Linked DNA regions of Homo sapiens: region 1 is linked to region 2. The links come from fine-mapping of genetic effects on gene expression. Tissue or cell type: lung. Region 2 holds a variant in brackets; the other region holds the start of a gene. All regions are shown on one strand. Distances are from middle to middle.

Region 1 (5,162 bases), 180 kb before region 2:
AGGTGAACGTTGTGGTGAGCCAAGATTGTGCTACTGCATTCCAGCCTGGACAACAGGGCAAGACTCCATCTCAAAAAAAAGAAAAAAAGAATTCATGATTAAAAAAAAAACAAAAAAACCTACCCCAAAGACACATTCTCATCGATTTAGAATTAAATGTCCTTACCATCCAAAAAATTAGAGGTTCAAACAATGATAGTTAAACAGTTAAACACACTATGGTACATATACGTGATACAAATTACAACGAAAAACAGCAATGATTTTACAACGAAAAACAGCAATGATTTTCTGATATAAGCTGTCAGTTCTTAATTATAAATAGAGATCATAAATTCCTCAAATGAAATATCATATAAAAAAATGTGTGAAATACACATGGGTTCATAATTCTGAGAAATTTCTTATCCTACTTTGGTATAACTGAACAGTTTATATGAAAAGTTGATTAAAGGTATGTTATGGTAAATATTAAATTTTCATATACATTCAGACATACACACACACGCAAATGTATATTATATATATATACTTTTATATAATAAACTTAGGTAAAAGACTTTTCTATGTCAACTTTTGGAAATTACTCAAATACATAGACTACGGAAAAACTTGTGGGAAATATAAAATGTTCCAGACACCATCAATTTGTTTTCTGCTAGAAAACACACAATGCACCTCTTGTGAATCTATGGAGTTGACTGGTTCTGTCCTTTTGCCCAGCAAGTCACCTGCCACAAAACTGAAAGAAAGGTCTGCTTTAGCGTCTTGTTCCCCCAAATCAGAATGAATGAGTGGAATGATGGATATATGATTCCAAAAGCTTGGCAAAGCATTAAGACAATTTCTTTTGGTCGCATCTTAAAATTCCAAAACGATATGATTAGACACAGAAAGTAAATGGCAAGTAATATGAGGAAGGAGGTCACAGTTTGCAGAGCTTTTATGTGGATCTTGGTGCTGGGATCTTGAGATCCTTTGCCATGGAGCTGCATCTTCTTCAGATGTTTACACAGAGAGTAGATTAACAGCAGAAAAGATATCAGGGTCAGAGTGAATGGTATCAAGTTTGCTAGCATGGCTACAGTCAAGTTGGAAAGGTGCATTGCATTCCTCAGTTTGATCTTCCAAGTTACGTTTCCTTCACATTCTTCTGTCCACACATTTATATACGTGTGTTTCATCACAAGGTGACAAACCAAAAAGAACAAAGACCCCAACACTATCACCAGAACTACACTCTTAGCCTTCCTTTTTAAGTGATGAAAAATAAGTCTGGAGAAATTGACGATCTTGAGCAAATAAAATATGCTGAGGCTAGTAGCAAGCCAGATGCTGAAATGATTGGTTACTGCCCAGGCATTAGAAATAAAAATTATTACTTTTAAATTAGATGAAGTTGGATTCAACACAGTTGAATACCAATGTAATAATATTACCCAGAGCAAACCAACTCTGGAGACTGCCAGAGCAGCAATAATTTGATCAGCTGAGGAGATCTTTTGTCTCTTGACCCAGGCAATGAAATTTATCAGTGCTATAAAGCCATTGGCAAAATTTCCAAGAATAAATGCAACCACTACTAGAATGGAAAAAACAATGTGTAGAAAACTCATCATGTCTAAACAAAAAAGCAAGTAAAAAATTCAGGCCTAATGTCACTGATGGTGACTCCTCTGATATTCAAGACTTTAAGTTAAATATGCACTTGATTCCTGAATGTCCAATAACATTCTTTATACTTTTAAATTCTGTGAACAATGTCAACAGAAAAGCACCAGCTTAAACTAATGAATGAGTTCAATGCTGCCTTTATGGGAAATACTGTTAGTCCCAAAACAACTCAAATTAATTCTTATTCATAAAGTCTCTATTCTTGCTATAGGCTGAAATTTTTCATACTGATGTTGAAGGGAAAGCTGAATTCTCATTTGCTAGCATTCAAATAAAGACATATCCTCTTTCATTGCTTTGCAATTTTTTCCTTGTTTCACCTTTCCATAATTTGTGTTCAGCCCTTCAGTTGTTGGGGAAATTTTAATACCCAGTACATAGATGACACAAAAAATATATTGTTAAAAGAGCCTGGTGAAATCTAGGATCAAAATCACTATGGATTTATTTTTAAAGCCAGATTTAAATACACAGAATCTAAACTTTTTATCAAAATCACCTAAGATTTTCTTGGAAACCACAGGAAAGCCAATACTCCTTATAATTTGGTTGCTGTTAACCAATACTTCTATATGGCATCACTATTAACAAGCTCATAAACACACACACAGACACACACACACTTTCACTCTTCAAGGATGGAAGGAATTGCTTTCTTGTAACTTATGACATGGAAAATGAGTTTCCAGGAGCTCGTCCTGGTGGAATTAGTCCTATTTTTCCCATGCCAGATTTTCAGCCAATGAATAATATTCATGAAACATATCTCTCATGCTTAGGCTTTTGGTAATGCTACCTGCAAGCTTGTAAACATTCCTGAGTACCAGACCTTTGTCACATAATTTTGCAGTGTCCTCCCACCACAGGCATAGTGACAACCTTGCACTAGGGCTCTGAGTTCGATCATGTAATTTGCTTTGATGAACAGAAAATTACTACACTTTACATCGAAATTTGAGATGACCTCCACATTAGGCTTTCTTGTTCCTTTCCGGTTTATAATGAGAACATGTCCACACTAACACACTGTTCCCAGAATAAGAATGAGTAACTCATGGAATCATATGGCTCCTGCCTGATCCAGCCTTAAATCGGCCAAACTCTAACTAGATCCAAGAGGCAAAACTTGGACCATCTCAAATCACCAGAGCCATCCACCAAACCCCAGCTTAAGAAAACAGAATCCAAAAACATGTGAGATATAAATATCTAATGTGGTTTTGGAGAAGTTTCTTTTGCAGAAAAAGCTAAGTGATATAGGTACTCTGCTAATCCAAGAGTTTGAGAAATATGTGCGCCCTTGTTGTGTCAGAAATTCAGGAGCCAAAGGAAAAATAGGTTGGAAATATCAAAGTTTTTGTAATATGAGGTGAATATCTAAAACTAGAAGAAAACTTTTGGAAAGATCTGGAGGCTGTAGGTAACAGCATCTCAAATTTCTCCATTTTGCAACTAAAATAAGAATTCACTTTAGCTCTCTTGAGTTGTATAAGAATGTACGTAAATGGTGGATTTTCCCCCTAGGTATATAATGAGCAGAGCAATTAATAATTTTTACGTGACATTTCTCCCAATTTGTAATTTTTTAAATAAAATTATAATGCACACTTAGAAATGGGCCAAAACAAAAATAGGTAAGAGCAATGTATCATAAACACTTATGTAACCATCATGCAGGATAAGACATGGAACACTGCAAACAGACTAGGTCCACTTCCAGGCCACTTTCCAAGCCCCTAAACCTTTATTCACATCTCCTGAGATAAGCAATATTCATAATCTATGATGATCATTTGCTTGAATTTCTTTATACTTTACCAGCTAGGTTCACAACCCTAAACTCCACAGCTTGGTCTGTCCTGCTTTGAACTGTGTATAGGTGCAGTCCTGTGTGTTCTTCTTGTTCATGGCTTCTTGCACTAGATATCATGTTTCTGAAATTTAGTTACATAGTTGCATGTACATGTGATTCATTTCTTTTCACCTCTATATACTGTTCCACTGTATGGATTTACTGTAATCTTTCATATCATTCAATCATCCTTAGTTAATATATATTTGGGCAGTCTATTTTTGAGCTATTATGAATAATACTACTATCAGCATTATTTCACATATCATTTGATGCAATTCCTATTATGGGGTCATTAAATGTGGTGTTCAAATTATCCTCACAGACATAGAAAAGTGCAAAAAATAATTTATCTAAATTTGTTCCTGTCACCTTTACCTCCAGTCTCTTTATCGCTATTTGCATATATCTTATCAATAATATATTTAACTCAGCAAGACGCTATTATTTTATTCAGTCAACATTCATTTAGAATTATGCACATATTTATCATTTCTGTTAATTTTTATTCCTTCTTGCATGCTTAACCTTGTATTTTCAATATTTTTTATCTGAAAAATATCATTTGGATTTCTGTTTATGAAGGTCCTCTATTCTTTTGAAACACACTAAAGACATGATTCCATTGAATTCTACTTTCCATTTTTCTGTTGAAAATCAGGTTGTCATTTAGAAAGTTGTTCCTTTTAAAATAATCTATCTTTTCCTCTGGCTACTTTTCAGATTTTCTACTGGTCTTTGATGTCTTGTGACATTTTATGTTAATTTGTTTTTAGTTATCTTGTCTGACCTTTGATGGTTACTAAAAATATATGGATTAATACATTTTATCACTTTTGGGAAAATCTCCACAACATTGATTCTGCCCTATTTTATCCCTTTTAATCTTCCAGAAATCCAGAAGTATGTTAGATGCTCTGATTGTAGCATCAATGCCTCTTATCCTCTTAGCTTGGCATTCTTTGTCTTGTGGTCTCTTTAGGCTTCTTTCTTTATAGTTGTCTTCCAATTCACTAATTCTCTCTTCTATGTCTAACTGGTTGTTAACTCTGTCTATTGGATTCTCAATATTGATTATTTATTTTTTGCTATTATTGTTTTAGTAGCAGAAATTATATTTTGTTCTCCTTCTATAAATCATTATCTATGGAGAAGCAGAACAAAGCACTCTTACCACCAAGTTTTTTAAAAAAAGTTGGGTTCTTTGTTCAGTTGGTTGGCTTTGTTTTTTTGTTTTTCGTATGCTTGACATGAAAATGCTAACAATTTTCTTCTTTTCCCAAGACTTTGGTCACAAAATAGAATAAAAGCTTGGTCTACACATCCTTCCGCAAGTTGGAAGAACCTGGAAATTGATGTGATGTTAGTAGCTTTTTTTTTTAGGGGGGGATAGCAGCTTGTCTGTTGATGAGTCTTCACCACAAACTCTCCCCACAGGGAAATTCAATGAGCTGTGCTGGATCTCAAGATGCCATTCCAATAAATAAATTATAGCACCTCAACCCTAGCTACACCATTCTATTTTACAAATTAAATTTTACTCTTTTTTTATTAGCAGAAGTGGAGCTCTGTACCTTCAAACTTCTTCACTATCAGGTGAGATATAGAAGATGTGAGGGCTTACTTCTATTTGATT
Region 2 (5,110 bases):
AGTTTCATGAAGATAATGACAGTTGGCTTGGGTCTTGAAGCTTTTAGGATTTCTTAAAGAAATAGACAAAAAGGGAGATGATTTTACATAATTATGTAAAAGCATATGTAAAGAAACAAAAAGTATTCCTTTATCTGAGCTATTTTACTGAACTTTTGAGCTTGGTTTCCAATGCCTTCCTGGCTATTTGATTTTGAATAAGCTCTTATCAACTGAAATGAAAAAAAAATAGTAAAAAAGGATGGAAAAATAGCAAAAAAACATAAGAGGGAGAATAGGAGGGAGATTCTCCTTTTCATTAATTCTTCCTTTGGTAAAATTCTTTGTCTCATAAAAATGTATCCACAGTAAAATACATTTTATAATTTATTTGTATTATTTTGTAACTCTAATACAATGTTTTTCAAACTTGACTGCACATTGGAGTTAACTTGGGAGATTTAAAAAAACATATTGATGCCTGTGGGCCACTCCCAGGGATTTTTTTTACCTAATTGGTCTGGAGTACATTGCTGGCACTCACTGAGAGGCTCTTGATGTATGTCTTACAGTGACTCCCAAACCCAGGCAAAAATATTTCTACCCAAAAGCTGCAAATCTATGATTCTGCAAGGACAGGACAGGATTTTGCCTGCCTTGTTCTCTAACAATGTGTTTCTCATTCAGCCAATTTTGACGCTGACTGGCAAACTGGCCACCAACTCTCTTAACAACCACATAAGCGACTTTTTTGTTGTTGTTCATTAGTCTGTTTCCAATTCACAGAACATAAAGGGCATGGATAATAGCAGGTCTTCCATAACTATTTGTTAAATGAATTAGTGCTAACTTAGTTGGCAGTCCCACTAGCAGCACACAAAAGGAGAAAATGAATTAGGCTTGACTGTGAAACAAGTATCAGAGCAAGAAAAGAAAGTACCTCCTTACAGAAAATGTTACATTCATGTATGAGCTTATGAAAGATTTCTGTTCTAATCCTGAAAAACCCAACACTGCTCTGTAATCTTTCTAGTTCAATCAAGAAATCATACAGAATCAAAAGGAACATGGTCTGCCACCCAAGATGGGGGAGGCTTGGTACTTTTCTTCATGAAAAGGAACTACTTCTGTTGAAGATGGCTAGAAAACTAGATTTCATGACCCAAGAAGCAAGATAGCCCTAGAGATCACTAATGTTTTCAGAAATGCTCTGCAAGTCATGTAAAGGCTAATTGAGAAGAAGATTCCATTGATAGGCATGGTTTAGCTGTGAAAAACACCGAAAACAAGTCAGTCAGGAGATAGTGATTAAAGAACATCTAAGTTTGTAGTTACGCTGAAGAAACTAAAAATAAAAGATGCAATAACAAGTATAAAAACCACAAGTCCCATATACTATGAGTTGTATTCAAAGTCCAAGTTAATAATCACAATTTTTTAAATCTACATAATTAATCTATGTCCTACTCTAGACAAAATATCATCCAGTGTCTAGAATGAAAGCAAAATGACTGTGCAAATATACAAACACCCCCTAAAATAACTATTGGGTAATAGGCTTAATACCTGGGTGATGAAATAATCTGTACAACAAACTCCCATGACATGAGTTTACTTGTGTAACAAACCTGCACATTTACCCCTGAAACTAAAAGTTTTTTTGTAAAAAAAAAAAAACACCCCTTAAAGCATGATCTGGCTCAGAGAAGATGCTGTCTAATGAAGATTTTGCTAGAAAAAGCCACCTACTAAGACATAGCAGATAAACCACCCAAGACAGTGAGGAAATTGGTGCTCCTTTTTCTTGGAAATCAGTATTGGTATGGGTTTCTACCTGATGTTACATTCAGTACAGTTTAAGAAAACATGCCTTGATATACTTGATTTGTGTCTTATTTGCCTTCAGAACTAGAGCTATGGGTTGGAGATAAGCCAATTTCAGCAGTAGAAACAGGTTATTTGTTCCTGTCCTATAAATTACCTGACTGTATGCATTGAAATAACCACAATGATTACACCCAGTATCTTGAAATGAGCATTTATTTGACAAGTGAGATGAGTGGGAGTCTATAAAAATGAGTGATAATTTCCCTCTTTCCCCAACAGCTGGGTCCCAGGGTAGGTCATAATCCCATCAGTCTTGTTGATGGGATGTTGCATGTTGCATGTGTCAGTGCATGTGTTGGGCATGGCTCTTGGATTGTGGCTTGGTGGCTGCTAAATTCCCACAAAGGCCTTGTTTGGGAGAAAGTGGAGGTGCAGAGCTTGCTCTCATTTGCCATTCAAATATGCAGATTACTGGCCAGGCACGGTGGCTCATGCCTGTAATCCCAATACTTTGGGAGGCCAAGGTGGGTGGATCACCTGAGGTCAGGAGTTCGAGACCAGCCTGGCTAACATGGTGAAACCCCATCTCTACTAAAAATACAAAAATTAGCCAGGCGTGGTGGCATACACCACCTGTAATCCCAGCTACTCAGGAAGCTGAAGCAGGAGAAGCACTTGAACCCGGGAGGTGGAGGTTGCCATGAGCCGAGATCGCCCCACTGTACTCCAGCCTGGACGACAGAGCAAGACTCTGTGTCAAAAAAAAAAACAAAAAACAAAAACGGATTACAATACATCAATTGCAATAACCAGAATATGTCCCGGGCTGCTCTTACTACTTTTTTGTTTTGCTTCTATTGTGAAGAATGGGGTCCTGTTCCTTGTAGTCCCATCTCCCTGGGGTTGCTGCCTACTAAGTGTTAGACATGTATTACTCTTAATTAGACATGTATTAATTTACCACTAAGGTTGCTTATGAGTTGGATCAACTGCTTATCAAAGAAAAGTTTACTGACACAAAAATATAAATAGTATTTTGTGTTTTAAAGAATACAAGGTTAAGTCATTTATATAAAAGA[A/C]TATCTTTAAAATAAACTCAGTATCTAAGTCTAAAATATATTCAGCTTGATTTGCACATTACCTTTTATCAAGGCAAGAAAATTATAATTATAATCTTTGACAAAATACTAAATTAGTGATCAAAATAATATATGTACATTTTATTTTGTAAAATGCAAATTACTAAAAAAAGATGTTGTATTATCATTAAAACAATCATCAACATCATTGTTATTGATACATGATACCATATAGCCCAGATGTACTTACAATTTCATTTTATGCATATGGGGAGGGGGAAGTACTAATAATTCTAACATCATTTCCGGCTCCAGGGCACAGCTGTGGAGTCATGCCCTCAACTATAGCTTCATCAAGATTAATTTACAAGCATGTATTTATCAGTATTTAATAGCACATTTTTGTTTCTGTAATCTAGCACAATATAAAGAACATATCAAAAGTAAATTCTAAAAGGAATTCTTTGTTATTAAAAAGTTTCACTATACAGCTTCTGTACAGTGTTTTAATCTATGCCATCATATTCAAAATTTTTAGTAAATTTTCCCACCCTTAGCCTTATTTACAATCTGTAGTTTGTTACCTTATCTAATCTTAGATTATCACAGTCAAAGCAGCACTATGTATACATATGCTTGTCTAAAATTTACAATAAGCCTGCAACATTCTATAAACAACATCACTTTGCTTTCTGTGCCTTGCTGGTTAACATTGTTTCTATTTTTTCCTCTAAGAAATACAGTGATCAGATTGCAACAAAATGCATGTCACATAAACAAACACAAACACAAACATCCTCAGAATGTAATTATGATCTTTTTGTAGTAGCAATATGAGTATAATTGTGAATTAAGACATAAACTTCTATAATTTTAGTTCTATTACATAACATGGTAGAAACATTGGTTTCTGCCTCTCTGAAAATGCATATTGCATGTCCTAGAATTTAGCAAAATTAGCATGTGCCTAGAAACATCAAAATGTTTATTATTTGGGGTTTTAAATTGACATCAGCATTAAATCATGTGTTTCCAGTTTCCATTTAAAGATAATTTATTTTATTTCACACTACAAATCTTCTCCTTTTCTCACATAATCGTCGTATTTCCTTGTTATCAACAAGACTTCTAATAACAAAAAAAAACCACTTTTTTTCATTTAAAAAAAATGCTTGGGGCTGGGCACAGTGTCTCATGCCTGTAATCCCAGCACTTTGGGAGGCCAAGGCGGGTGGATCACCTGAGGTCAGGAGTTCGAGAACAGCCTGACCAATATGGTGAAACCCCATCTCTATTAAAAATACAAAAATTAGCCATGTGTGGTGGTGTGTGCCTGTAGTCCCAGCTACTCGGGAGACTGAGATAGGAGAGTTGTTTGAACCCAGGAGGTGGAGGTGGCAGTGAGCCAAGATCACACCACTGCACTCCAGCCTGGGCGACAGAGTGAGATGCCATTAAAAAAAAAAAAAAAAAAAAAAAAGTTTAGCTTTGAAGCTATGAGGCTATATTTTTCCTGCTGTGACTTTAGTTTTTAATTAGATTTTCTATCCACATTGTATATATCTTTTACCCATTCAAGTTTGTAATCTATCTTGCTTTTAAAGACACACACCTTTTTCTCCACAAGTTGCAATTACCTATCGTTTGCATATAAAATTAAATAATTTAGATTTTTTGAAATAATATGTGAGGTTAAAATATTGCTTGCCAATGCTCCAAACAAAAATGATTACTTTTAAAATGGTATCGACCGGCAATGTGTGAATTACCATCAAAAGCAACCTGGTAGGATTTCATTTATGTTCCAAAATACTTAGAGAAACCCAGTAGAAAAAAAAAAAAAAAACAGTGGAAGTGATCCCCAAATGCTCCTTGTTGAGTTATTCTCTTAGAAAAGCTTCTGTAAAGTCTGTCTACAAAGGTAAAGGGTTTGGTGTTTTTGTATAGTTCCTAAGATGCCACAGTAGCCTCACAGCTGTCTGTTGCAGCTTGCTGTTTCCCAGAATGAGAATAAATGAGTGGCACGAGGGAAAGGCATTTAAGGCTAACATGACAAACTTTATGCACTTGTTGTTCCACAACATAAAAAATATCCAATTGGCCACTTGTAAGGAAAAAAAATGAACTATGAAGAGGAAAAGGAAAGACATCACCATTTTCATGGCCCTCCTATGGGCCTCTGTGCTGGAGTCTCTAGAGCCCAAGGAACTGAGCTTCAAATTTCT

Evidence for each region. PIP is the estimated chance that this variant, and not a neighbour inherited with it, causes the effect.
Region 1: it holds the start of TAS2R20, and the variant in region 2 is fine-mapped to the expression of TAS2R20 in lung (GTEx, PIP above 0.99). The same link has a PIP of 0.9 or more in monocytes.

The regions. Positions count from the first base shown.
Region 1 is chr12:10,996,257-11,001,418 of GRCh38, forward strand. TAS2R20 (taste 2 receptor member 20) reads right to left here and starts at 2,048. Exons shown (of 1, transcript NM_176889.4): 1 at 1-2,048. The coding sequence starts at 1,619. The coding sequence ends at 690. The region is part of intron 3 of PRH1-TAS2R14 (PRH1-TAS2R14 readthrough); the gene reads right to left. The region is part of intron 3 of PRH1-PRR4 (PRH1-PRR4 readthrough); the gene reads right to left. It also overlaps a transcript of PRH1 not described here.
Region 2 is chr12:11,181,195-11,186,304 of GRCh38, forward strand. TAS2R42 (taste 2 receptor member 42) reads right to left here. Exons shown (of 1, transcript NM_181429.2): 1 at 4,799-5,110. The coding sequence ends at 4,799. Among named protein-coding and RNA genes, the nearest start is that of TAS2R42, 3.2 kb to the right of the region's middle. The variant A/C (reference allele first, on the strand shown) is at 2,886.